Homo sapiens: one gene and its partners. The protein of the gene in region 5 purifies or fractionates together with the protein of the main gene of each other region. This does not show direct contact. Each region holds a gene or a part of one and is shown on either strand. Other genes may lie near its edges. The genes, in order: ATP8A1, STRN3, OCLN, FKBP10, SLC2A4, WDR73 and ATP6V1A.

The links.
Region 1: the proteins of SLC2A4 (region 5) and ATP8A1 purify together in Homo sapiens (affinity purification with mass spectrometry; one large-scale study listed by BioGRID and IntAct). This does not show direct contact.
Region 2: the proteins of SLC2A4 (region 5) and STRN3 purify together in Homo sapiens (affinity purification with mass spectrometry, with the first as the bait; one study listed by BioGRID). This does not show direct contact.
Region 3: the proteins of SLC2A4 (region 5) and OCLN purify together in Homo sapiens (affinity purification with mass spectrometry; one large-scale study listed by BioGRID and IntAct). This does not show direct contact.
Region 4: the proteins of SLC2A4 (region 5) and FKBP10 purify together in Homo sapiens (affinity purification with mass spectrometry, with the first as the bait; one study listed by BioGRID). This does not show direct contact.
Region 6: the proteins of SLC2A4 (region 5) and WDR73 purify together in Homo sapiens (affinity purification with mass spectrometry, with the first as the bait; one large-scale study listed by BioGRID). This does not show direct contact.
Region 7: the proteins of SLC2A4 (region 5) and ATP6V1A purify together in Homo sapiens (affinity purification with mass spectrometry; one large-scale study listed by BioGRID and IntAct). This does not show direct contact.

Annotation. Positions count from the first base shown.
Region 1 is NC_000004.12:42,458,106-42,461,605, forward strand, and holds part of ATP8A1 (phospholipid-transporting ATPase IA), read right to left. Parts: intron 1-3,500. UniProt on the Homo sapiens protein: Catalytic component of a P4-ATPase flippase complex which catalyzes the hydrolysis of ATP coupled to the transport of aminophospholipids from the outer to the inner leaflet of various membranes and ensures the maintenance of asymmetric distribution of phospholipids.
Region 2 is NC_000014.9:30,907,880-30,911,379, forward strand, and holds part of STRN3 (striatin-3), read right to left. Parts: intron 3,284-3,500; coding exon 3,162-3,283; intron 1-3,161. UniProt on the Homo sapiens protein: Calmodulin-binding scaffolding protein which is the center of the striatin-interacting phosphatase and kinase (STRIPAK) complexes.
Region 3 is NC_000005.10:69,548,290-69,551,789, reverse strand, and holds part of OCLN (occludin), read right to left. Parts: intron 247-3,500; coding exon 205-246; intron 1-204. UniProt on the Homo sapiens protein: May play a role in the formation and regulation of the tight junction (TJ) paracellular permeability barrier.
Region 4 is NC_000017.11:41,816,004-41,819,503, forward strand, and holds part of FKBP10 (peptidyl-prolyl cis-trans isomerase FKBP10 precursor), read left to right. Parts: intron 1-1,054; coding exon 1,055-1,200; intron 1,201-2,085; coding exon 2,086-2,275; intron 2,276-2,378; coding exon 2,379-2,524; intron 2,525-3,206; coding exon 3,207-3,396; intron 3,397-3,500. UniProt on the Homo sapiens protein: PPIases accelerate the folding of proteins during protein synthesis.
Region 5 is NC_000017.11:7,280,472-7,284,517, reverse strand, and holds the start of SLC2A4 (solute carrier family 2, facilitated glucose transporter member 4), read right to left. Parts: upstream 2,801-4,046; 5' UTR 2,584-2,800; coding exon 2,551-2,583; intron 1,274-2,550; coding exon 1,157-1,273; intron 1,046-1,156; coding exon 873-1,045; intron 781-872; coding exon 656-780; intron 545-655; coding exon 429-544; intron 302-428; coding exon 139-301; intron 34-138; coding exon 1-33. UniProt on the Homo sapiens protein: Insulin-regulated facilitative glucose transporter, which plays a key role in removal of glucose from circulation.
Region 6 is NC_000015.10:84,641,535-84,644,283, reverse strand, and holds part of WDR73 (integrator complex assembly factor WDR73), read left to right. Parts: intron 1-560; coding exon 561-814; 3' UTR 815-2,749. UniProt on the Homo sapiens protein: Component of a multiprotein complex required for the assembly of the RNA endonuclease module of the integrator complex. Associates with INTS9 and INTS11 in the cytoplasm, stabilizing the INTS9-INTS11 heterodimer and blocking the active site of INTS11.
Region 7 is NC_000003.12:113,806,035-113,809,295, reverse strand, and holds part of ATP6V1A (V-type proton ATPase catalytic subunit A), read right to left. Parts: intron 1-3,261. UniProt on the Homo sapiens protein: Catalytic subunit of the V1 complex of vacuolar(H+)-ATPase (V-ATPase), a multisubunit enzyme composed of a peripheral complex (V1) that hydrolyzes ATP and a membrane integral complex (V0) that translocates protons.

The DNA of each region.
Region 1 (3,500 bases), on a different chromosome or scaffold from region 5:
TCTTTAACAGTGAAGTAGCCTACCAGCAGGCCGATTTCAAGTTAGGCTGAGATTGTAGTTAATATTGGGAACATATCCCGTGCAAAATAAAACAACATCTAAATTATCCCAAACACATAAAAGTACCTCCTCTAATTCAACCAGAGCCACAGATTCAGAAAGAAAACACCGGTCCCTCTGGGGAGGTGTCTAGTTTATTTAAATTCACAGGGAATTCAACTCCCAGCACCACTTGCTGGGACAGTATCACCTTATTGACTTTTATCAAAGCTTCTGGAAATTAGAAACACAACTTGGTTTTGAGATCTTCCCAGAAAACTTGGATGTGACCAATCATTTGAAAGGAAAGGTCTTATTTTATGAGGAAGGAGTCAGACATATCAGAGAAATAAAAAAAAATCTCTCTTTAAAAGGAGCCAATAATTTAAATGAACACCTAGAGCTGCTCCTGGGCAGCTCCTGTAAGAAAGAGCTTTATACCACCATCTGCCAAATCTGTATTCGTCTGGCTGTAATTTACAGCAATGGAATATCTAGATAGTGACTTTCCTAAGCAATATAGCAAGGAGAAAAGCAGTGTTTGTAGTTTTAAATCTATAAAACACATAGTGTTCAAGACTATTCCTTTATTAGCATAGAAATTTCAGACCTGCTTCTCCTGGCATTATTTTCTAAATTCCACCTCCCAGTAGAGGCGTGGCAGCTAAAGCTTCACATTCATTTTCCTGATGGAGCATTTCTGCATATTAAACAGCAGCTTACAAACAGTCAATGAGTCCTCTGCTCCCACGCCTGATCAGCACAAAAAACTGAAAGGAGAGATTCGAGACTGGCAGTTGTCCTCACTAGAGACATTCAATGATGTGTTTTCTGTCTATTCATTCACAGTATTGACATGAGCCATTAACATCTGCAGAACTTGTTTTAGCTGGCAAAAGTTGGGTATCTGGGAATTGATTTAAAAGGTCATTACCAAGACAGTTGAATCATATTCAAAATACATTTCCACAAACTCTTGAGAAAAATAAAAATGAGATTTCCAGTAAAGTTTAGAACTCACTTCCTTTTCACTGTGTAAAGAATTTGATCAGTGTCAAATATCTCATGAACAGGTTTTAAAATCAAAGGCAAGTGAAGTTTAGGGTTAATCAACCACAAATCACATAATTCTGGGTTTGAAACAGGACAGGGCATGAAGATTGTTTTCATTTGATTTTAATGTTTTTATTTTCTCATTAGTACATAAATTTTGTCTACTTTATTGCTGTCAATTTAGATTTAAAAAGCGACAAGTTGGACATTCTTATTTTATAAAATTAACTTTTTATAAGCAGATTTATTGCTGGCAGTGGCTTTAAATTCCTGGTATCTTGATAAATCTATGTAAATAAACTGTATAAATTGTTATTTGCTTGAATGTCAGTGTTCTGGAATGAGAAGAACATATAAATAGAAAAGCTAGATATATAGAAGGGATTGAGAATAGAAAAATAATTACTTTAGAAAAGAACTACACATTTATATAAACAACAAAGAATATTTTTTTGAATCTTATAAACTATTTTAGAAGTGCATTTTGCTTCAAAACACACACTATTCCAGACCAAATCTAGCAGTAATGAACGAGTAAGTTCATTTACGTATCTTGTTTATATTTCCACATATTAGGTTATTTTTTTAATTTTTATTTATTTATTTTTTTGAGACAGAGTCTCGCTCTGTCACCCAGGCTGGAGTGCAATGGCGCGTGGTCTCTGCTCACTGCAAGCTCCACCTCCCGGGTTCACGCCATTCTCCTGCCTCAGCCTCCCAAGTAGCTGGGACTACAGGCGCCTGCCACCACGCCTGGCTAATTTTTTGTATTTTTAGTAGAGACAGAGTTTCACCATGTTAGCCAGGATGGTCTCGATCTCCTGTCCTCGTGATCCACCCCCCTCGGCCTCCCAAAGTGCTAGGATTACAGGCGTGAGCCACTGCGCCTGGCCTGTATTAGGTTATTTTATCTAATAGGTTGTAACCTTTTTAGTGACCATTACACCAAACTGCCTGTACACTTCAAAACTAAGTTTCAATTTTACTAGCCTGACTCATAATAAGAACTATGCTCAGTCAACATTTAACAAGGAGATAAGCATTCTGACAGAGGCACAAAGAACAGGTGAAGCAAATATACACCAGCCCCCAACGAAAGTGTCAACGTACTGACTTTGTTTATACTGTTACTTCTCAGAGTAAAGGATAGAATATGATTTCCATATAGCAAATGGATGGATCTTTTTTTTTTTTTTTTTTTTTTTTCTGAGATGGAGTCTTGCTTTGTTGCCCAGGCTGGAGTGCAGTGGCACAGTCTTGGCTCACTGCAACCTCTGCCTCCCTGGTTCAAATGAGTCTCCTGCCTCAGCCTCCTAAGTAGCTGGGATTACAGGCAACTGCCACCATGCCCAGCTAATTTTTTGTATTTTTAGTAGGGACGGGGTTTCACCATGTTGGCCAGGTTGGTCTCGAACTCCCGACCTTGTGATCTGCCCGCCTCAGCCTCCCAAAGTGCTGGGATTACAGGCGTGAGCCAACGCACCCAGCCTGGCTGTATCTTTTTTGACAGACGTGTAGAAACAGTCAACAGATTAAATGGTAAAGTGGCAGAAACAAACATCTATCTGTAAGGGAACCCTCAGCAGATTTATGAGACCATGGTGGGTCCTTGACAGGAGTGGGAGAATGAGGTTTTCTTAACAATGGGAAGGCCATTGTCATGATCTGCAGAGCTCCAACAGGGACATGAAACTGATAACACCTAGAATTACTACACATATAGCTTCTGACAATAAGAAGGCAACTTTTTAAAAAAAGGCAAATAACATATTTATCATGCCTTGATTAACCATTCAGTTCACTTATTTATCTACCACTGCTGTGCTGCCCAGCATGGTAGAGACTGGCCACACGTGCTCTTGAACACTTAAATGTGATTAGTCCAAATTGAGACGTGGTATAAATGTAAAATATACTCCAGATTTTGAAAACTTAGGATGAAGGATGTAAAATGTCTCATTAATAATTTTTGACAGTGATTACAGGTGACAATGATAATCTTTTGAATACATTGAGCTAGATAAAATATACTGAGATCAATTTTTTCTTTCTTTTTTTTTTTTTTGCTTTTTGCTAATGTGGCTTGCATTGTATTTCTGTTGGCAAGTGATATGGTTTGGCTGTGTCCCCAGCCAAATCTCATCTTGAATTCCCATGTGTTGTGGGAGGGACTGGTGGGAGGTAATTGAGTCATGGGGCCAAGTCTTTCCAATGCTGTTCTTGTGATAGTGAATAAGTCTCAAGAGATTTGATGGTTTTGAAAAGGGGAGTTCCCCTGCACAAGTTCTCTTGCTTTGCCTGCTGCCACCCATGTAAGACGTGACTTGTTCCTCCTTGCCTTCCATCATGATTGTGAGGCATCCCCAGCCATGTGGAACTGTAAGTCCATTAAACCTCTTTCTTTTGTA
Region 2 (3,500 bases), on a different chromosome or scaffold from region 5:
CTCCCACTTTCCATGAATGGTTCTTATCATCTCCACAATTCTCACAGCTCCCAACCTCTCTTCCTCATGAATGACTATGCCTCATATTTCACTGAGAAAATATAGCATTCAAATAATGCTGCATGTTTCTTATCCCCCATCTTCTTGCTGCGTAATATATAAATGATTAGTGTCTAAAGGTATCTTCTCCTAGCTTCCAGATACAAGCAAGGAATCTGTCCTCCATCCTATCAAAGGCTAATACCAGATGTCACTAACTTGCTGTAATGTTTACTGCTTCTCTACTACACAAATTCTCCTCCTTGGAATCATTACCATAGTGAAAAAAAACTTGTTCCAGAATCTCTTCAACAAAAAATCTTCATTAATCCTATCCTACCACCCCTTCCACCCAGCAATAGAAATATGCTTTTCACTTCCTGTTTACTCTTCAAATCACTCCAATTTGGTTTCTGATACCACTACCACACCAAAACAATCCTTGCTAATGATGATCCCTACACTATCAAATTTAATACTTTTCTTTGATGATACAAAACATTTTGTTGTTGTTCCCATTATATTGCTTTTCATCCATATAGTCTGACATGAAAGATTATCCAGAGGTCCCTTCATTCTTCAGTCTTAGCTGCAGCGTCCAAACTCTGTCTGGCCAAGACCTGGGTGACCTGCTAGTCACTTATAAAAAGGAAACTTTATATCATATTATTGGACCTCTCAGCAACATTCGAAAGTGCAGACTGCTTCTTTCTTCTCAAAATTGTTTCTTCTTTAGTGTGCGCTTCCATGATTTCGCACCCTCTCCTGCACTTCCTTCTGTCTCTTGGGTCACACCTCCTCAGTTTCCTTTCTTGGCTCTCTTGCTCTAGCCACTCTTCCAGTGTCAGAGTTACTGAGGACTTTAGTCCCAGGTTGTCTTCTCTTCTTACACCAAACAATACACTCCCCCAGTATTGCCCATTCTTATAGTTTAATGTATTATTTGTATAGAGAAGACTGTCCATGTTTTTAACTTCAATCGAGATCTCTTTGGGCTCCTTATTTGTATATTACCTACTTGATATTTGTCATCCTTTAACATGCCTAAAATCTGAACTCACCATCTTAAATCTCCTCACACCTGTTCTGTCCTCGTTTCAATAAATGCTCCCATCACATGCTCAGTTACTCACATCAAACAGGACTGAATGTTCTGAATGTTTGAAATGTTCTGAAATTAGTGATGATGGCTGTAAAACTTTGTGAATGTTCTGAAATTAGTGATGATGGCTGTACAACTTTGTGAACATAGTAAAAACTACTGAACTGTAGACTTTAATTTTTTTTTAGAGATGGGGTCTTGTGGCTGCACATAGTGGCTCATGCCTGTGATCCCAATACTTTGGGAGGCTGAGGCAGGCAGATCACTTGAGCCCAGGAGTTTAAGACCACCCCGGGCAACATGGCCACCATTTCTACAAAAAATACAAAAATTAGTGCGGTGTGGTGGCTCACACCTGTGGTCCCAGCTCCTCAGCCTGGGAGGCGGAGGTTGCAGTAAGCCAAGATCACGCCACTGCCCTCCAGCCTAGGAGACAGAGCAAGACTGTTTCCAAAAAAGAAAGAGAGAGAGAGAGAGAGATTGGGTCTCACTCTCTTCCCAGGCTGGAGTACACTGGCACCATCATAGCTCACTACAGCCTTTACTTCTCACACTCAAGTGATCCTCCCAGCTCAGCCTCCCGAGTGTCTGGGACTATAGGCATGTGACACCCCATCTGGCAAATCTTTAAATTTTTGGCAGACATGAGGTCTCACTGTGTTGCCCAGGCTGGTCTTGAACTCCTGGCCTCAAGTGATCCACCCACTTCGGCCTCCCAAAGTGGTGGGATTACAGGCATGGACCATTGTGTCCAGCCTGAACTGTATACTTTAAAAGGGTGAATTTTGTGATATGTAAATTATCTCAGTAAAGCAGTTAAACACATACAAATTAAGAGTCACTCACCCATCACTTTATCTACTCAACATAATTTATCAATAAATCCTGTCTATTCTACCACACTCCCTCAGCGTATCTTAAAACCACTTCTAAATGCTGTGCTACCACCACTCTAATCTTGGCAATGTCGTTTGTCACCTAGTTTACTGGACTACTTTATGACAGCAGCCTCCTAACTGGTATTTCTCTTTCCACTCTTCTCGCCCCCAATTTATTCTTCTCACAACAGACACAGTCACCTTTTTAAAACCTTACATTTATCAGATAACTTTCTGGCTTAAAACTCTTTACTGAAAGTTTCCTCTTATCCTTCAGATTTTGGCTTGAATGTCACTATTTTAGAAAGACCTTTCTTGACTAACTCTTCTAGAGAAGGTTCTGCCTGTTACGCCCTCTCAACAGTACTCTATCTTCTTATCATTTATCACAATTTGTAACCATAGATCCCATCCCTTCGCTTATCTGTTTTATGTCTCTACTTTCCATTAGTCTAAATCTTATTTCTTGACATAGTGCTTACCACAATGCCTAGCTAATGTAGGCACAATGTGTGTGTTAAATAAAAAGAACAAAGAGTTCATAAACATTTTGTTTTAACGTTTTATAATTATTAACAGTGCCCTTACAAATATATTTGAACACAGGTACAGGTAGGTGTTTCTGTAGAACAGATTTCTAAAAGCTACATTTGCAAGTCAAAGGAGGTTTCCTTTCTTTTTTTTTTTCTTCCATTTTGAAATTAAGAATGTTTTTGTAGATATGAGCTAAGAATAACAAAAAAAATTTTTGGCTCCAAAAAGTTTTAATGATTTATACCCCTGATGTTGGTTCCATTGTCTTTTGCTTAATATTTTTAAAATATATAAACTATTTCTTAAGTTCAAAATTTTGTTACTTAGATTACATTTTGTTTCCTCCTTCTTTTTGTAACTACTACCTAAATTAACATTTTAATTAATATAGTTTTTTAAACAACAGAGAAAGTATCAATTCATAGGCTTAAATACCCATGGCATGACATTTCCTAATTTTTCTCTTTAATAAAGCAATTTATTAGCAAATGGAAGAACTAAATGAGGTGACTAATATAGGTTTAAATAACCTTGTAATCATATTTGAGGTATTTACTTTTGTCAGCTCCATTCACTTAAAAAAAATACATTTTGATCATTTTACTTACCATATGTATCATATGGATCTACACTGGGACTCGGCATATTCCACCACTGGATGGTTGCATCAATACCACCACTAAAACACTGTTCTCCATTAGAACTAATAGCTAATGACAGAACAGGGCCGCTATTGTAGGAAGAGAGGAAAAACAAATTACTGATAAATTCTAAGAAGAAACTCAAATCTCCATTCCCCCAACCTCTGAATTTATGTAATATCTAAAAACTGTTTTAAGAGAACATGTACACCTGACTGGTACTTTTTTTTTTTTTTTTTTTTTGGAGACAGGGTCTCACTCTGTCACCAGCCCAGACTGGAATGCAGTGGTGATCTCTGCTCAGTA
Region 3 (3,500 bases), on a different chromosome or scaffold from region 5:
GTCACATTGTGAAAATTCACCATGTTATACACTTTGATTTATACACTTTTCTGTATGTATACTTCAACTTTTAAAAAATATATAAAATAAAAAATGAAAAACATGTAATAGAAAAGCTCTTCCTCCAGATGAGTAGGTATGGGAATTAAAATAAAAAGAAGAAGAAAGAAAGTTCTTCCTAAAAGAACAATCTCGGATACTTACTCCCTTCACTTGCTTCAGTCTATTGTATTCATCAGCAGCAGCCTATTAACGACAGACACAAAGGAATATGTTTACTGGGGCATTTTCTCTTTTAAAAGTAACATTCCTGATGTTATACTTTGGAGCTAAAAATGACAGCTTATGACAAAAATATAAGCAATTAAAAGAATGAAGTCGTAAAGCTCTTAAAACTCATGATCAGCAGGAAGGTCTGAAGGAATTCAGTGAAGAGACATTTATGATACTGTATCTTTCACATTTCACTCACATAGGCAGGTAACTATCTGTTCTGCTACTTCTCATCTCTCCTCATGCCAGTCCCCATGCTACATTGACACCAGGAAGATCTTTTATAACACAGAGCGCTCGCTGATCAGGTAATATCCCACTACACAACTGGTCTGAGCTTCCCATTAACTTCTCCCCTCATCCAGTTTCCTACCTTTCCAGTCTCAGTACCCATCATCAGCAACTCCTTTAAAAACTGAGACATGTTAAATGCTTCAGGATTTCAATCATGTTTTCCTTATGGCTGTAATCATGCACCTCCCCGCACCCTTCTGTCTGGAAAGCTCTTAACGATTCCCTCACTGTGAAGCCTCCAAAGACTTTATTTCTTCTATGAGCAGTTAGTTATAGTGCTTTCTACACATGATGCAAATACAGCATTAATCATACTGTCTAAATTGTTTAGATGTCAGGTTTTTTTTCTTAAAATATAAGCTCTTTTAGGGTGGGGACAAGATTTTATGTCTCTAGCTCCAGCATTTCCACATCATCAAAGAAAAATAAGTGATCAATAAATGTTCACTAAATTAAGAAAGATCTATAACACCCTATAGAAACCATAAAAGAAATACATAAATCTAACTATATAAAGATGTGAATACGTCAAAACTAAAAAGTAGATCACCTCAACTGAAAAATGGCAGAATATTTAATGAGATGTGCATCAAATGAGTCCTGTATTGTATCAAGAGGGAGACACAGTTGGTGCAGTCTCTCTGGAGGGCAATTTTGCAACTTTGCAAAGGTACGTACCCTCTGACTCTCAGCAATTTCACATTCTGGAATTAGTTTTAGTTAGATAAGCAGGCTGGGCACTGTGGCTCACACACGTAATTCCAGCACTTTGGGAGGCCAAGGCAGGCAGATCACCTGAGGTCAGGAGTTCGAGGCTAGCCTGACCAACATGGCAAAACCCCGTCTCTACTAAAAATACAAAAATTAGTCAGGTGTGGTGCCACATGCCTGTAATCCCAGCTACTCGGGAGGCTGAGGCGGGAGAATCACTTGAACCTAGGAGGCGAAGGTTGCAGTGAGCCAAGATAGCGCCACTGCACTCCAGCCTGGGCGACAGAGCAAGACTCCGTCTCAAAAAAAAAAAAAAAAAAAAATTAGATAAGTAGACAAGAGTGCAAAAACAGAGAGGTTCACCAGTATATACTGGTACTACTGGAGTAGGGGGAGACATACTTAAATGTCTATCCATAGAAAATGACTCTTAAATTATGATACAACCATAAATTTGAAAGTTGTTTACCTAATTTTACACATAAAAAACTTAAAAGTAAGTAGGTCTTTATTATTGATATAAAAAAAAAAACTTGCTGTTAAGAAAAGCCAGAAATAAGCAGTGCAAGGAAGTTTTTTTGTTTGTTTTTTTTTTAAAGATAAAACCCCACAATAAGAGTATGTCAAAGGGACACGGGAAGCAACTGAAAGTTCCCAACCGTCAAAGCGAGAACAATTAGAGCTACAAAATAAAGCAGCCTTGGATTATAATTCACAGTATAAAACAGGTATCTGTAAAGTCCATACTTACGTAAGTGATTGACTGATCAATAAAGGAACAAATAAACAAGAAGAGATTAATCTCCCTCTAAAAGGTGGTGTAACTACATTAATTTCAGTATGTATACAAAATACAGTATGAAAAGGATGGATTGAAAAAAAAATCCAGTAACTTTACATGGACAAATTCTATCTCAGCCAGGTGATCAAGGGAGGGAAAAAAAAAACCCATAAACTGTTGATTTAAAAGACAGGAAGAAAATAAGTGAAACATGGAAGATGATGTTTCCTTAAAGAAAGGTGTATGTGCCTTGGTGACTCCTGCTTGGAGAGATTGTTTTAACTAATATTTTGGTGATAAGGATTTCTTGATGGTAGGATTTAAGATGATTTCTTTTTCTGTATACAGTTCTGTGTTACTTAAGTTCTTTTTTTTTTTTTTTTTTTTTTTGAGATGGAGTCTCACTCTGTCACTCAGGCTGGAGTGCAGTGGCGCGATCTTGGCTCACTGCAAGCTCCGCCTCCTGGGTTCACACCATTCTCCTGCCTCAGCCTCCCAAGTAGCTGAGACTACAAGTACCCGCCACCATACCTGGCTAATTTTTTGTATTTTTTTTTTTTTTTTAGTAGAGACGGGGTTTCACTGTGTTAGCCAGGATGGTCTCGATCTCCTGACCTCATGATCCGCCCACCTCGGCCTCCCAAAGTGCTGGGATTACAGGCATTAGCCACCGTGCCCGGCCGCTTAAGTTCTTTTCTACAGAAAGAATGAATGGCTTTATAAATAGGAAAGATAATAAGGCTATTTTATTATTATTATTATTAATTTTTGAGATGGAGTCTCACTCTGTCGCCCAGGCTGGAGTGCAATGGCGCAATCTTGGCTCACTGCAACCTCCCCCATCCCAGGTTCAAGCAATTCTCCTGTCTCAGCCTCCCCGAGTAGCTGGGATTACAGGTGTCTGCCACCATGCCCTGCTATTTTTTGTATTTTTAGTAGAGATGGGGTTTCACCATGTTAGGCACGCTATTCTCTAACTCCTGACCTCAGGTGATCCACTTGCCTTGGCCTCCCAAAGTGTGGGGATTATAGCCATGAGCCACCATGCCCAGCCTGGCTATTTTATTTTAAATAGGAAAGGATAGATGTACATAGAATAGTGCTTTGTAGGGGCTGGGCGCGGTGGCTCACGCCTGTAATCCCAGCACTTTGGGAGGCTAAGACGGGCAGATCACGAGGTCAGGAGATCGAGACCATCCTGGCTAACATGGTGAAACCCCGTCTCTACTAAAAAAAAAAAATACAAAAAATTAGCCGGGCGTGGTGGCAGGCACCTGTAATCCCAGCTACTTGGGAGGCTGAGTCAGGAGAATGGCGTGAACCCGGGAGGCAGAGCTTGCAGTGAGCTGAGATCACGCCACTGCACTCCAGCCTGGGCAACAGAACGAGACTCCACCTCAAAAAAAAAAAAAAAACAGAATAGTGCTTTGTAATTATTAAC
Region 4 (3,500 bases), about 35 Mb from region 5:
GCATGCCTGTGATCCCAGCTGCTACTTCGGAGGCTGAGGCAGGAGAATCGCTTAAACCCGGGAGGTGGAGGTTGCAGTGAGCTGATTGCACCACTGCACTCCAGCCTGGGTGACAGAGCCGAGACTCCATCTCCAAAAATACATATGTATAAGTAAAAATAAATACATTAATTAAAAGTGTATAACTAAAAACAAACAAAAGCCATGGCACTTTTAGAATAGGCTTTTTTTTTTTTTTTTTTTTTTGAGAGGGAGTCTCACTCTGTCGCCAGGCTGGAGTCCAGTGGCACGATTTCGGCTCATTGCAACCTCCGCCTCCCGGGTTCACGCCATTCTCCTGCCTCAGCCTCCTGAGTAACTGGGACTACAGGCGCCCGCCACCACACCTGGCTAATGTTTTGTATTTTTAGTAAAGACGGGGTTTCACTGTGTTAGCCAGGATTGTAGAATAGGCCTTTTCAAAATGTGAAACCAGCTCCCACCCCACCTCTGCTCTCCCGTCTTTTCTTGGAGAGCCAATAGTATAATGGCAAATTTTAGAACTCAGCTGACTACATATTAGCTGTGTGACCTTGGGCAAGGCACTGAGTCTCTCAAGTCTCCATTGCTCTCATTAAGAAAAATGAGAACAAGAATGCCCACCTCACAGGGGAGACAAAGAAGATACGGAATGTAAAATGCCAAGCATTTAATCCCATATAGTAATGCTCCTCTGCCCCTCCGTGCTGTACGTACCACTCCCCACTTGCTGTCAGCAAATAGTAGCAGCCATCAGGCCCGGGCATCCCACCCAACCCCGTCCCAGGGCAATAGCAGCCCTTGTCCTCCTCAGGGACTTGCCTTTCACAACAGTCCGTTCTCTTAAGGTGGGCGTCACGGCCGACCTAGGAGGGGGACTTGAAAAGGAGGTGAGAAGTGTGTGTGCGTATCCACACCTGGCTATAGGGAGGGGGGATTGTGTGCGTGTGTGCAGGCACACCTGTGCATCTGTGCCACCATGGGCAGTGTGTGTGTGTCTGAGGTCACTGTATCCCATCTGTCCCTCCCCCCCCAGCTATGATCGCAACACCTTGGTGGCCATCGTGGTGGGTGTGGGGCGCCTCATCACTGGCATGGACCGAGGCCTCATGGGCATGTGTGTCAACGAGCGGCGACGCCTCATTGTGCCTCCCCACCTGGGCTATGGGAGCATCGGCCTGGGTGAGAAGGGCTGGGGCACAGGCCGGGGGTGGAGGAGACCACGAGGCAGAATCAGGGATCCTGGGGTGAGAAAACTGAAGTGCGGAGATGAGGAGTGACTTGCCCAATGTCACACTGTGCACGCAGTATGAAGAGTGGCAGCTCTGGCTGGGGCAGTAGCTGACATATATGGTCCCAGAGTTTTGGGAGGCCGAGGTGGGAGGATTGCTTGAACCCAGGAGTTCCAGACCAGCCTAGGCAACATAGTGAGACCTCGTCTCTACAAAAAATAAAATAAATTATCCAGGTGTGGTGGTGTGTGCCTGTAGTCCCAACTACTCAGAAGGCTCAGGTGGGAGGATTGCTTGACCCCGGGAGGCTGCAGTGAGCCATGATCATGCCACTGAATTCCACCCTGTGTGACAGAGCAAAACCCCTCTTTTTTTCTTTTTCTTTTTTTTTTTGAGACAGCATCTCACTCTGTTGCACAGGCTGGAGTTTAGTGGTGCGATCTCGGCTCACTGCAACCTCAGCCTCCTGGGCTCAAGCAGTCCTCCCTCTCAGCCTCCCAAATAGCTGGGACTACAGGTGCACACCACCACACGTGGCTAATTTTTTGTATTTTTAGTAGAGATGGGGTTTCGCCATGTTGCGCAGGCTGGTCTTGAACTCCTGGGCTCAAGCCATCCACCTGCCTTGGCCTCCCACAGTGCTGGGATAACAGGCATGAGCCACTGTGTCTGGCCCCCTATCTCTTAAAAAAAAAAAACAAAAATAGTGGCATCTCTGTCCCTGGTTTGGGTCTCTTGGTGCTGGGATGAGAGGAAGGGGAATAACAGGGCCCTGGCTGGGATCGTGGTTGGCAGAGCAGAACTCTGAGACCTCCACGCTGCTGCGCTCTCACAGCGGGGCTCATTCCACCGGATGCCACCCTCTACTTCGATGTGGTTCTGCTGGATGTGTGGAACAAGGAAGACACCGTGCAGGTGAGCACATTGCTGCGCCCGCCCCACTGCCCCCGCATGGTCCAGGACGGCGACTTTGTCCGCTACCACTACAATGGCACCCTGCTGGACGGCACCTCCTTCGACACCAGGTGAGGGGCTGGAGGGGAGCCCTGAGGCACTGGGGACTGTGGCATGGGGAGCGGGAATCCGGGGCCCAGCCTGCCTCTCCCACCTCCACCTCATTTTCTGCAGCTACAGTAAGGGCGGCACTTATGACACCTACGTCGGCTCTGGTTGGCTGATCAAGGGCATGGACCAGGGGCTGCTGGGCATGTGTCCTGGAGAGAGAAGGAAGATTATCATCCCTCCATTCCTGGCCTATGGCGAGAAAGGCTATGGTGAGGGTGGGCAAGGACACAAGGGGAAATTCCGCAGAAGAGGGAAAAACCAGGCCTCCACATACAGTTGCTCAGGTTGTATACTGCACGAGGGCATCCAACCAAGGACTCAAGGTGGGATGAAATCTACCCTTGGTGCTACTAAGAAGGGGTGCTTTGGCCGGGCGTGGTGGCTCACGCTTGTAATCCCAGCACTTTGGGAAGCCAAGGCGGGAGGATCACGAGGTCAGGAGATCGAGACCACGGTGAAACCCCGTCTCTACTAAAAATACAAAAAAATTAGCCGGGCGTGGTGGGGGCGCCTGTAGTCCCAGCTACTCGGAGAGGCTGAGGCAGGAAAATGACGTGAACCCGGGAGGCGGAGCTTGCAGTGAGCCGAGATCGCGCCACTGCACTCCAGCCTGGGTGACAGAGCGAGACTCTGTCTCAAAAAAAAAAAAAAAAAAAGAAGGGGTGCTTTATTCTGATTCACACGAAGGCTCAGTATGAGCCGGTGGTGGCCCTGGGGAAAACCCAGCTCAGGTCTTACTGGAGGAGCAAGAAGCAGGGCTGCTGATGGGCGGGAAAGGGCTCTGGAGAGTGGGGCTAGTGTCTTGCATGGTGCCCACTGGGCCTTCCTGAGTCAAGAAGGAGCCTCGGCTTGCTCCCCAATTTTATGGTTCAAGCCCTATCCCTTCCCCAGGGACAGTGATCCCCCCACAGGCCTCGCTGGTCTTTCACGTCCTCCTGATTGACGTGCACAACCCGAAGGACGCTGTCCAGCTAGAGACGCTGGAGCTCCCCCCCGGCTGTGTCCGCAGAGCCGGGGCCGGGGACTTCATGCGCTACCACTACAATGGCTCCTTGATGGACGGCACCCTCTTCGATTCCAGGTCAGGAGGGTCTTGAGGTGGGAGGGCGGGGGCTGGGTGAAACGTGGACGAAGCTGGGGGTCACTCTGAGCTGCCTGGAAGGGGAGGGCCCCTTTGACTCCCTT
Region 5 (4,046 bases):
AAACATCGGCCCAGCCTGTCAGGCGCTTCAGACCTGGAGAAGGGAAGGTCAGGCCTGAGGGGACCTGAGAGGAAGCCAGGTGCTAGCAAGATGAGGCGGAGGCATGGGCCTGGGCCAGGCTGCAGCGGGAGAGCTTACTCTTTCTGGCAGGCCCCTCGAGATTCTGGATGATGTAGAGGTAGCGGGGGCTCTCGGGACAGAAGGGCAGCAGGACCAGCTGCAGGAGGGCAGGTAGCACTGTGAGGCCCAGGAGCAGTGGCCACAGGCTGGCAGTGCCCAGGAGGGACTCCAAGCCCAGCACCTGTGGGAGAAGGTTGGGAAAGAAGGCAGGTCACTCAGCCCTTCTGCCTTACCTTGGAAGCCCACCATATTCTCCAGAGCCCCACTCTAACCACTGCCCAGGCACCCATGAGGCTTGCTCCGGTCACCTGGGCGATCAGAATGCCGATAACAATGGCCAGTTGGTTGAGCGTCCCCAGGGCGCCCCGCAGGTGAGTGGGAGCAATCTCCCCCACGTACATGGGCACCAGCCCTGATGTCAGCCCTGGGCGAGGGAAGAAGAGAGGGCTGAGGGCAGGTGTCCATTCCCATCTGAAAGCCCAGGCATGGTGAAAGAGAACAGGGCGCTAGGCAGGGCTGTGGTGCCCGTGAGTACCTGAGTAGGCGCCAATGAGGAATCGTCCAAGGATGAGCATTTCATAGGAGGCAGCAGCATTGGCCAGGCCCATGAGGCTGCCCCCCAGCACCGCCAGGACATTGTTGACCAGCATGGCCCTTTTCCTGGCAGGCAGACAGAGTGAGGCTGTGAGGGTGAGGGCACCCAGCAGTGGCTCCCTTCCTGTTTCCCCCACCCCTGCCCTCCAGCTGCGAACCTTCCAAGCCACTGAGAGATGATACCAATGAGGAAGGAGGAAATCATGCCGCCCACGGAAAAGATGGCCACGGAGAGGGCCCAGAGGGTGGTGAGGGTGCCTGGAGGGATGGAGCTGGGTCCCTCAGGCCCCTGCCTCCCCAGCCACGTCTCATTGTAGCTCTGTTCAATCACCTGGGGGACAGCAGAGGACAGATTTCCTGCAGACCGTCCCCTTTCCACCACCCCCGAGACACCTGTCCTCCTCGTTTGGGTACCCCCACCCTGCCAGCTGCAGGCCCTCACCTTCTGAGGGGCATTGATGACCCCAATGTTGTACCCAAACTGCAGGGAGCCAAGCACCGCAGAGAACACAGCAAGGACCAGGGTCCCAGTCACTCGCTGCTGAGGGGGTTCCCCATCCTGAACAGGCAGACACAAAGACACAGCATGTCACATGGAACCATGATTTTTTTCCTTCCGCTAGGGGCCCGGGCCCAGCTGGAGCCTGAAGATACTGGGCTCCACCCAACATGTTGGGTGAGGGAAACTGGGCCATATTAGGAATTGCACAAAGATCTCAATGTAAACAGGAGCTGAACTGCAACCTGGGCATAAAGGAGAAACTGGATGTTTGGGTCCATAAGGCAGAGAAATGTTTGAGAACTTGTCTCAAAATTCTTCTGTGACCTTGAGACAGGCTTGGCCTTAAGAGCTCAGATTTGTGTGACCTTGGCCAAGTCACTTCCCTGCCCCGAACCTGAGTGTCCTCTGTGAGATGGGGGTGATGTTGCCTGCCTTGCCTACCTATCTGTGAGAGTGTTGTGAAAATCAACATCACATGTTAACAATATCCTTGACAGTGCTGGTTTCATAAATTAACACGTGCATTATTATCATCAGCCACTGTCCTCTTCCCTCCCCTCTGGGGGTTCTGTCAGCCAGCTCCAGGAGGCCCCCAACAGGACCAAGAAGTGCTGTTCCAGAAAGGACATCCCGGTCATCTAGGGGTGGCCTTCTCTATCTACGTCGTGGCCTGCCCTCCCCCTCTAACCTCCGTGCAGGGAGGGCCGTCCAGGGGTTCTGCCTGGGAGAGCCATGCCCAGGGGAGGAGGGCAGGAAGGTAGTGTGAGGGGCGGTGGCAGTGGTGGCCGCTCGCTGGCGGCACAGACTGTCTCCAAGCGGAAACCTGAGCTGGAGGAGGGGGGGCTGACAGTCCCCTCTGCCCCTCCACCAACCATGGGGCCAAGGGAAAGTTCAGCGTCCTGGAGGGCGGCCAGGAGTGGGGGTGGGGGCCCACGGAGAGCCTCCGGTCCTCGAAACACTGCCCGTGAGCGAAGACGGACGGACAGCTCCCGGAGGGCAAGACCCGCCTGGATCTGCTTTCCCGAGTCGGATCGAGGGCAGGGTGTCCCCGATTCCGGAGCGCCGCGCCGCCTACTAGGCAAGGGGGTGAACCCTGGCTCGCAGAATCCACTTGCTGCCTGTGCCCCGAAAGGCCCTCCAGACCCACTCTGCCTTTTGGTAGGATTGGAATCTCACAGTCACGGGTTGTCCAGGCCGGGTATAAATAGCCAGCCCCCTACCTTCACCCCCTGCGCCTGCGCAGGAACCACCCCCAGCTGACCCCAACCGCGACCCCAGCCCAAGAAAAGCGGGACCCGTGCCCCCCCGCCCCGCCCCCTCATGATGAATCCTACTTCGGAGCCTATCTGTTGGAAGCCCGACGGCATCTCGTCTTAGAAGAGCTGGACGCGCAGGGGCGGCGAAGATGAAAGAACCGATCCTGGAGTCTCTGACTCCGGCCTGGAGCGCAGAACCTGCGGAGGCCGCGGGGGTCCCGGAGTGACGTGCGAGGGCGGGCCCGATGGGACCCACAGCCACAAGCCAAGGACCCGGAGAGCAGTGGGGCTCCCGCGGATCTGGTGGAGCGGGGCTGGGGGAAAAGACGCGAGAAGCCCCCGCCACCTCGCTCCTGCCCCCGCGGGCCACGCCCTTCACAGCACCCATTGGCCAGGAGCCCGCACACCCCAGAAGGCCACGCCCCCTCCGCCTGGGGTTTAGAGTTTGGCTGGAGTTGGTGGGGCGGGCCAATGAGGCCACGCCCCTCCGCGTGGCTGGCGAGACACGCCTCTCGGGTTCCCGCCAGCCTCCGACTGGGAAGTTTTGAGAAAAGAGTCCCTGGAACAAAAGGCCCCGCCCACCCACGTGTTAGGACTCCGCCCACCAGCTAGGATCCCGGGCTGCAGAAGCATCTTAAACTCTGCGGGTCTGGACAGTGGGGTCTGAGAGGAGAGGACGGGCCAGGTGTACTTGCCCCGGGGAAACTCCAGCGGCCTGAGACGGCTCGCGAGCCGGCGCGCGGGTTGGGAGAGGAGCAATGCCCCAAAGTAACCCGGGGCTGCTATTTTTAGCTCCCACGTTGGGAGCCTCCAAATGTCAGGTCCCGGGCGTCCCGGCCTGTCCCAGGCGGGGGCGGAGAGACAGGGAGATGACGCCTTAAAGAGTCCGCGACATGCTTCCCACGCGAGTGTGGCCCTGGGGGCCAGGAAATTCCGTTCCCACAACGGGTCTGGTGGCCGGGCTGCTTGGTCCTGTCTTTCAGCGCCTCCCTGCTCCGGGCACTGTCTATCCCGCCCTTCCCCTACACACATTCCCCAGGTTGGTTCCTGGAGCCGGTCCGAGGGACAAGTGGTCACAACCGACCACACCACCAGCCCTGAGGTCTCTGAGCCTCTGAGGTCTCTGAGCATATGCTGGCCGCGTGAACGACACGCTCTCTGGAGGCTGCTCCGGGTTTGGATCCTCGGCCAAATTCTGCCAGGCAGAAAGTGCGCGACCTAGGGTCGGCGTGTGGGGAGAGAGAAGCCGAAATACCCAGAGCGTGGAGAGTGTCTGGCTCAGAAAACGGGCTTCGGAAGCGCAGGGTTGTGCTGCCACCTGGAGGGCGAGCGAGGAGCCGCAGTGGATTGCACTTGGAATCTCAACCCACTATTTCTCGCCTTTCCGCCACCATAGGGCTTCAGTGACATCTGACCCAGGCCCTTCTCTGGAGCTGCAGATCCAGGTGTTCGTTACCGCCCGGATGTGGCAGCTCTAGTGATCAGCATGTCCAAACCTGCTCCTCCTCCTAACTTCCTTATTTCAATGAATTACCCGCCCAGTCACCCCTATGGTAGAAGTCAGGCTCGATTCC
Region 6 (2,749 bases), on a different chromosome or scaffold from region 5:
CAAAGGCTTCTGTTTCCCCCATCGAGTAGGAGACAAGGCCATCTGCTGAAAGGGACCCAGAGGTAGGGGACTGGACTCTGGGGCAACTTGAAAAGGTTTGAAGAAGTCTCTTAAGCCTCAGTTTCCTGGGTAAAATAACAGTATCTGTGTCATACAGTTCTGAGGATTAAAAGAGCTAATACTTGTCCAGAATTAGCCTTCGAGCCTCACGCATAACAGGTGCACAACGGATGCTCATGGTTACATGCCCCACGGAGTCATCAGCTGCCAACACTGAGGGCAGATGCTACTTGCCCGTGGTTAGCCTTTTAAGTGCCTTGATTCCTCATCCAATAGCCTGTTTTGGTACCATAGAACAAATTATAAAAAGTATTTTAGGGGCTGGGTGCCTGTAATCCCAGCATTTTGGGAGGCTGAGATGGGAGGATCGCTTGAGGCTAGGAGTTCAAGACCATCCTGGTCAACATGGTGAAACCCCATCTCTATTAAAAATAGAAAGAAAATTATTTTAAAATAAAATTAGGGACTCATTGTCAAGCCTCTCTTTTCTGTATTCTCAGGTTTTGATGGTACAGTCCAGGTCTATGATGCCACATCTTGGGATGGAACACGGAGCCAAGATGGAACACGGAGCCAAGTAGAACCTCTCTTCACTCACAGAGGTCACATCTTCCTAGATGGAAATGGGATGGACCCTGCTCCTTTGGTCACCACCCACACCTGGCATCCCTGCAGACCAAGGACTTTGTTATCAGCAACAAATGATGCCTCTCTGCATGTGTGGGACTGGGTGGACCTTTGTGCCCCCCGCTGACACCAGCATCTTTCCATCTAGGCCTCTAGAAAGGGGAGGAGCTGCTGTAGTAGCAAGGGTGCTCATGTAGGACTCAAGTGACTACCAGTCCCTGTTACCAGCTGTGTGGCCTTGGGCAAGTCTGCCAGCGTCACTTAGCCTCAGTTTCCTTATCTGTAAAATGAGGATAGTAAGAACTACCTCGTAGTGATATTGCGAAGGTTAGAAGAAACGCATGGCATAATTACTTGGTAGCTATTGTTAGATCTGGGAGTGTGAAATGGTAGCGTTTTGTCCCTGTCTTCACACTATCATAGGGAGAATCAAAAGAGCTAACAAATATAAACATGCTTTGTGAATTTTTTTAAAGAAAAAAATGTAGAGGGGCCAATAAACATGAAAAAATCCCAGCCCTAGTAGCAATTAAGGAAATAGCAAAACAGGATTTCTGCTCCTCTTGAGTGGGTCTCATGGGAACACAGGTGCACTTTCCCACACTTGTCCCCCCAGGTGACTAGGTTCAAGAGACATTTGCTTTTGGTGGCCCCACAAACATTTCCTTTTGAGGGCCCATAGTGAATATTAAAGTGTGCTGGACATGGTGGCTCATGCCTGTAATCCCAGCACTTTCAGAGGCTGAGGTGGGCAGATTGCTTGAGCTGAGGAGTTTGAGACCAGCCTGGGCAACATAGCAAGATCCCTTCCCTTAAAAAAAAAAAAAAATTTGGCTGGGCATGGTGGCTCATGCCTGTAATCCCAGCAATGTAGGCAGCCAAGACAGGTGGATCACTTGAGTCCAGGAGTTCGAGACTAGCCTGAGCAACATGGCGAAACCTTGTCTCTACTAAAAATACAAGTTAGCTGGTTGTGGTGGTATGAGCCTGCAGTCCCAGCTATTCAAGAGGCTGAGGTGGGAGGGTTGCCTGAGCCTGGCAGTTGAAGTTTGCAGTGAGCTGTGATCATGCCACTGTATTCCAGCCTGGGCAACAGAATGAGACCCTGTTACACACACACACACAAAATAGATAAGTTGTTCACTCTGTCAGCATCTATTAGCCCTTCCCATGTGCAACACTAATTACATGCTAGAAATACATAAATGAGAGGCTTCCTAAGGTGGTTGAATTTTTTTTTTTTTTTTTTTTGTAGTAGAGATGGAGTCTTGCTCTGTCACCCAGGCTTGAGTGCAGTGGCGTGATCTCGGCTCACTGCAACCTCCACCTCATGGGTTCAAGCAATGCTCCTGCCTCAGCCTGCCAAGTAGCTGGGATTACAGGCACGTACCACCATGCCCAGGTAATTTTTGTATTTTTGGTACAGACGGAGTTTCACCATGTTGGCCAGAATGGTCTTGATCTCTTGACCTTGTGATCTACCCACCTCGGCCTCCCGAAGAGCTGGGATTACAGGTGTGAGCCACCGCGCCCGGCCAGGGGATTTCTCCTGTGTGAATTCGCTGGTTAAGTGATAATTAACTGCAGTTAAAATTCAGGTCAAGCATGTGGCTCATGTCTGTAATCCCAGTACTTTGGGAGGCTGAGGTGGGAGGATAGCTTGAGTCCAGGAGGAGTTCGAGATCAGCCTGGGCACCATGGTGAACCCCTGTCTCTAAAAAAAAAGAAAGATTTTTATTTAAAAAACCTAAACAAATTCAGATAGGAATTTAAAGATAGACCAGGCACAGTGGCTCACGCCTGTAATCCCAGCACTTTGTGGGGGGCCAAGGTGGGTGGATCACTTGAGGTCAGGAGTTCAAGACCAGCCTGGCCAACATGGTGAAACCCCGTCTCTACTAAAAATATAAAAATTAGAGACGGGCATGGTGGTGGCACACCTGTAATCCCCACTACTCAGGAGGGTGAGGCAGGAGAATTGCTTGAACCTGAGAGGTAGAGGCTGCAGTGAACCGAGATTGTGCCACTGCATTCCAGCCTGGGTGACAGGGTGAGACTCCAT
Region 7 (3,261 bases), on a different chromosome or scaffold from region 5:
ATAATTTTCATTACGTATGTTAAGTTACTTTTTTTTTTTTGGAGGCAGAGTCTTGCTCTGTCACCCAGGCTGGAGTGCAGTGGCACGATCTTGGCTCACTGCAACCTCCACCTCCTGGCTTCAAGTGATTCTCCTGCCTCAGCCTCCCAAGTAGTTGGGATTACAGGCGCCCACCATCACGCCCAGCTAATTTTTTTTTTCATATTTTTAGTAGAGACAGGTTTCACCATGTTGGCCAGGCTGGTCTTGAACTCCTGATCTCAAGTGATCCACTTGCCTCGGCCTCCCAAAGTGCTGGGATTACAGGCGTGAGCCACTGCACCTGGCCCAGGTTACTCGTATTTTATATATTTTGAGTACTAGGTTTAGTGAGGGACACTGGTAAACCACAGGCAGGAGGTAAAACTATACTCATTTTCCCTTTTTCTTAAGGATACAAATCCAACCAAACAGAAAGAAAACAAAATTTTAATTTTGCATTTTGCCTGATAACCACATTCAGTGACCAAAGCCTTTATCCTCAACAATGTGCACAATAGTGGGAAATTATGCCGCTTCATATATTAGATGAACATGACTTAATGCATGATAATTAGGAATTAATTTAATCAAAACAGAATTTGCTCAACATCTGGTATTATCACACTGGGATGGAAAAGTAAAATTTAGGCAACTTACTGAGTAATATGTATAAAAGATAATTTAGCTAGGCTTGGTGGCTCACGCCTGTAATCCCAGCACTTTGGGGGGCCGAGGCAGGCGAGTCACAAGGTCGGGAGATTGAGACCATCCTGGCCAACATGGTGAAACCCTGTCTCTACTAAAAATACAAAAAAATTAGCTGGGCATGGTGGCGTGCACCTGTAGTCCCAGCTACTTGGGAGGCTGAGGCAGGAGACTCGCTTGAACCCAGGAGGCGGAGGTTGCAGTGAGCTGAGATCGCGTCACTGCACTCCAGCCTAGTGACAGAGTGACACTCTGTCTCAGAAAAAAAAAAAAAAAAAAAAAGAGACAGACTTTAAAATGTTCCAGGTCTCTAACCCAATCATTCCACTTCTGGGACTCCATACTAAGAAAATGCACAAAACCAACTACACACAACTACATGGTTGTCCACACCAATAACTGGAAATTTTCTTTTCTTTTCTTTGTTTTTTTTTTTTTTCAGACAGAGTTTTGCTCTTGTTGTCCAGGCTGGAGTGCAATGGTGTGATCTCAGCTCACCGCAACCTCCACCTCCCGGGCTTAAGTGATTCTCCTGCCTCAGCCTCCTGAGTAGCTGGGATTACAGGCATGCACCATCACGCCCAGCTAATTCTGTATTTTTAGTAGAGACGGGGTTTCTCCATGTTGGTCAGGCTGGTCTAGAACTGACCTCAGGTGATCCACCCGCCTCGGCCTGCCAAAGTGCTGGGATTACAGACGTGAGCCAATGCGCCCGGCCAACAACTGGAAATTTTCTAAGTGTCTAAGAATAGAAAAATATTACTCTCCAGCCACAAAACAATGCTACAGAAGAGTAATGACATTAAAAAATACCTGTGATGTTAATTTGACACAATAAGCATGTAAATAGAAATCATCATTACTACAGGTATATTTCTTCTTCATCCTCTTTCTATGAATATATAGTTTTTTAAGACAATATTTGGATCAAGTTACATATGGAAGTTTTTTCACTCTGTGCCATAAGCATTTCTCCATGTCTTTGAATATTTTTGACAAAAATGGTAATGCCTTCATAATATCTATCTTATGGACACACCATAATGTACTGTTGGCTCTGTTCATTCTTGGGTGACATTTAAGAAATTTGGTTTAGCGTAGTGGCTCATGTCTGTAATCCCAGCGCTTTGGGAGGCTGAGGCAGGCAGATCACCTGAGGTCAGGAGTTCAAGACCAGCCTGGCCAACATAGAGAAACCCCCGTCTCTACTAAAAATACAAAAATTAGCTGGGTGTGGTGAATGCACCTGTAATCCCAGCTACTTGGGAGGCTGAGGCAGGAAGAACTGCTTGAACCTGGGAGGGGGAGGTTGCAGTGGGCCAGGATCGTGCCACTGTACTCCAGCCTGGACAACAGAGCAAGACTCCATCTCAAAAAAAAAAAAAGAAAAAAAAAGAAAAAGAATTTAATAAACGACCGTGTATATCCGTATCAAAATTCTGATTACTTCCTTTGTTTATTTATCTCAAGGTGAAATGACAAGACTAAAAAGGTGTAAATGTTTTTAAACTCTCAATGTAGTGCTTACCTATTTGTACAGGTTTACTTTCAATCTATAGTGTGAACACACACACAAAATATATATATAATTTAAAAATTTTTATATTACATATACACTCAGAGAATCATTCTCAGTAGGTGGTTAGTAAATATGCCTGGATGTCATGACAGAAATAAATACAATTCAACTGATCAAATATTTTAAAAACAATCTTATACATTTGAGTTCCTACTAATAATTTCATTTAATTATCTATTTTTATCTTGTGTACTTCCAAAAGAACAAGAGGCCACTTAAAAGTTAAAAAATGGCTGGATGCGGTGGCTCACGCCTGTAATCCCAGCACTTCGGGAGGCCGAGGCGGGTAGATCACATGAGGTCAGGAGTTCAAGACCAGCCTGGACAACATGGTGAAACCCCGTCTCTACTAAAAATACAAAAAATTAGCTGGGCGTGGTGGCAGGCACCTGTAATCCCAGCTACTTGGGAGGCTGAGGCAGGAGAATCGCTTGAACCCAGGAGGTGGAGGTTGCAGTGAGCCGAGATTGTGCCACTGTACTCCACCCTGGATGACAGAGCAAGACTGTCTCAAAAAAAAAAAAAGTTAAAAAATGACCTGCAGTACATGATATTTAAAAGAAGTAAACAGAGAAGATGTCATTTCAGAAGAACACATGTGCTAGAGGTTAATAGGCACTTGGAGTAAGGCAACTGTTGCTCAGCTATGAAGTAAGCTCTAATTTGCCTGGCAACTAAGACAAAAGGGAATACACATCAGCATTTATTTTAGACGTGACATACTAATTTTTTTTGTTTTTTGAGACTGGGTCTCACTGTGTTGCCCAGGCTGGAGAGTAGTGGTGGGATCATGGCACACTGCAGCAGCCTTGACCTCAGCCTCCCAGATAGCTGAGACTACAGGTGTGTGCCCCACACCTGGCTAATCTTTTGTATTTTTTGTAGAGACGGGATTTCGACATGTTGCCCAGGCTGGTCTTGAACTCCTGGGCTCAAGTCATCCTCCTGCCTGAGCC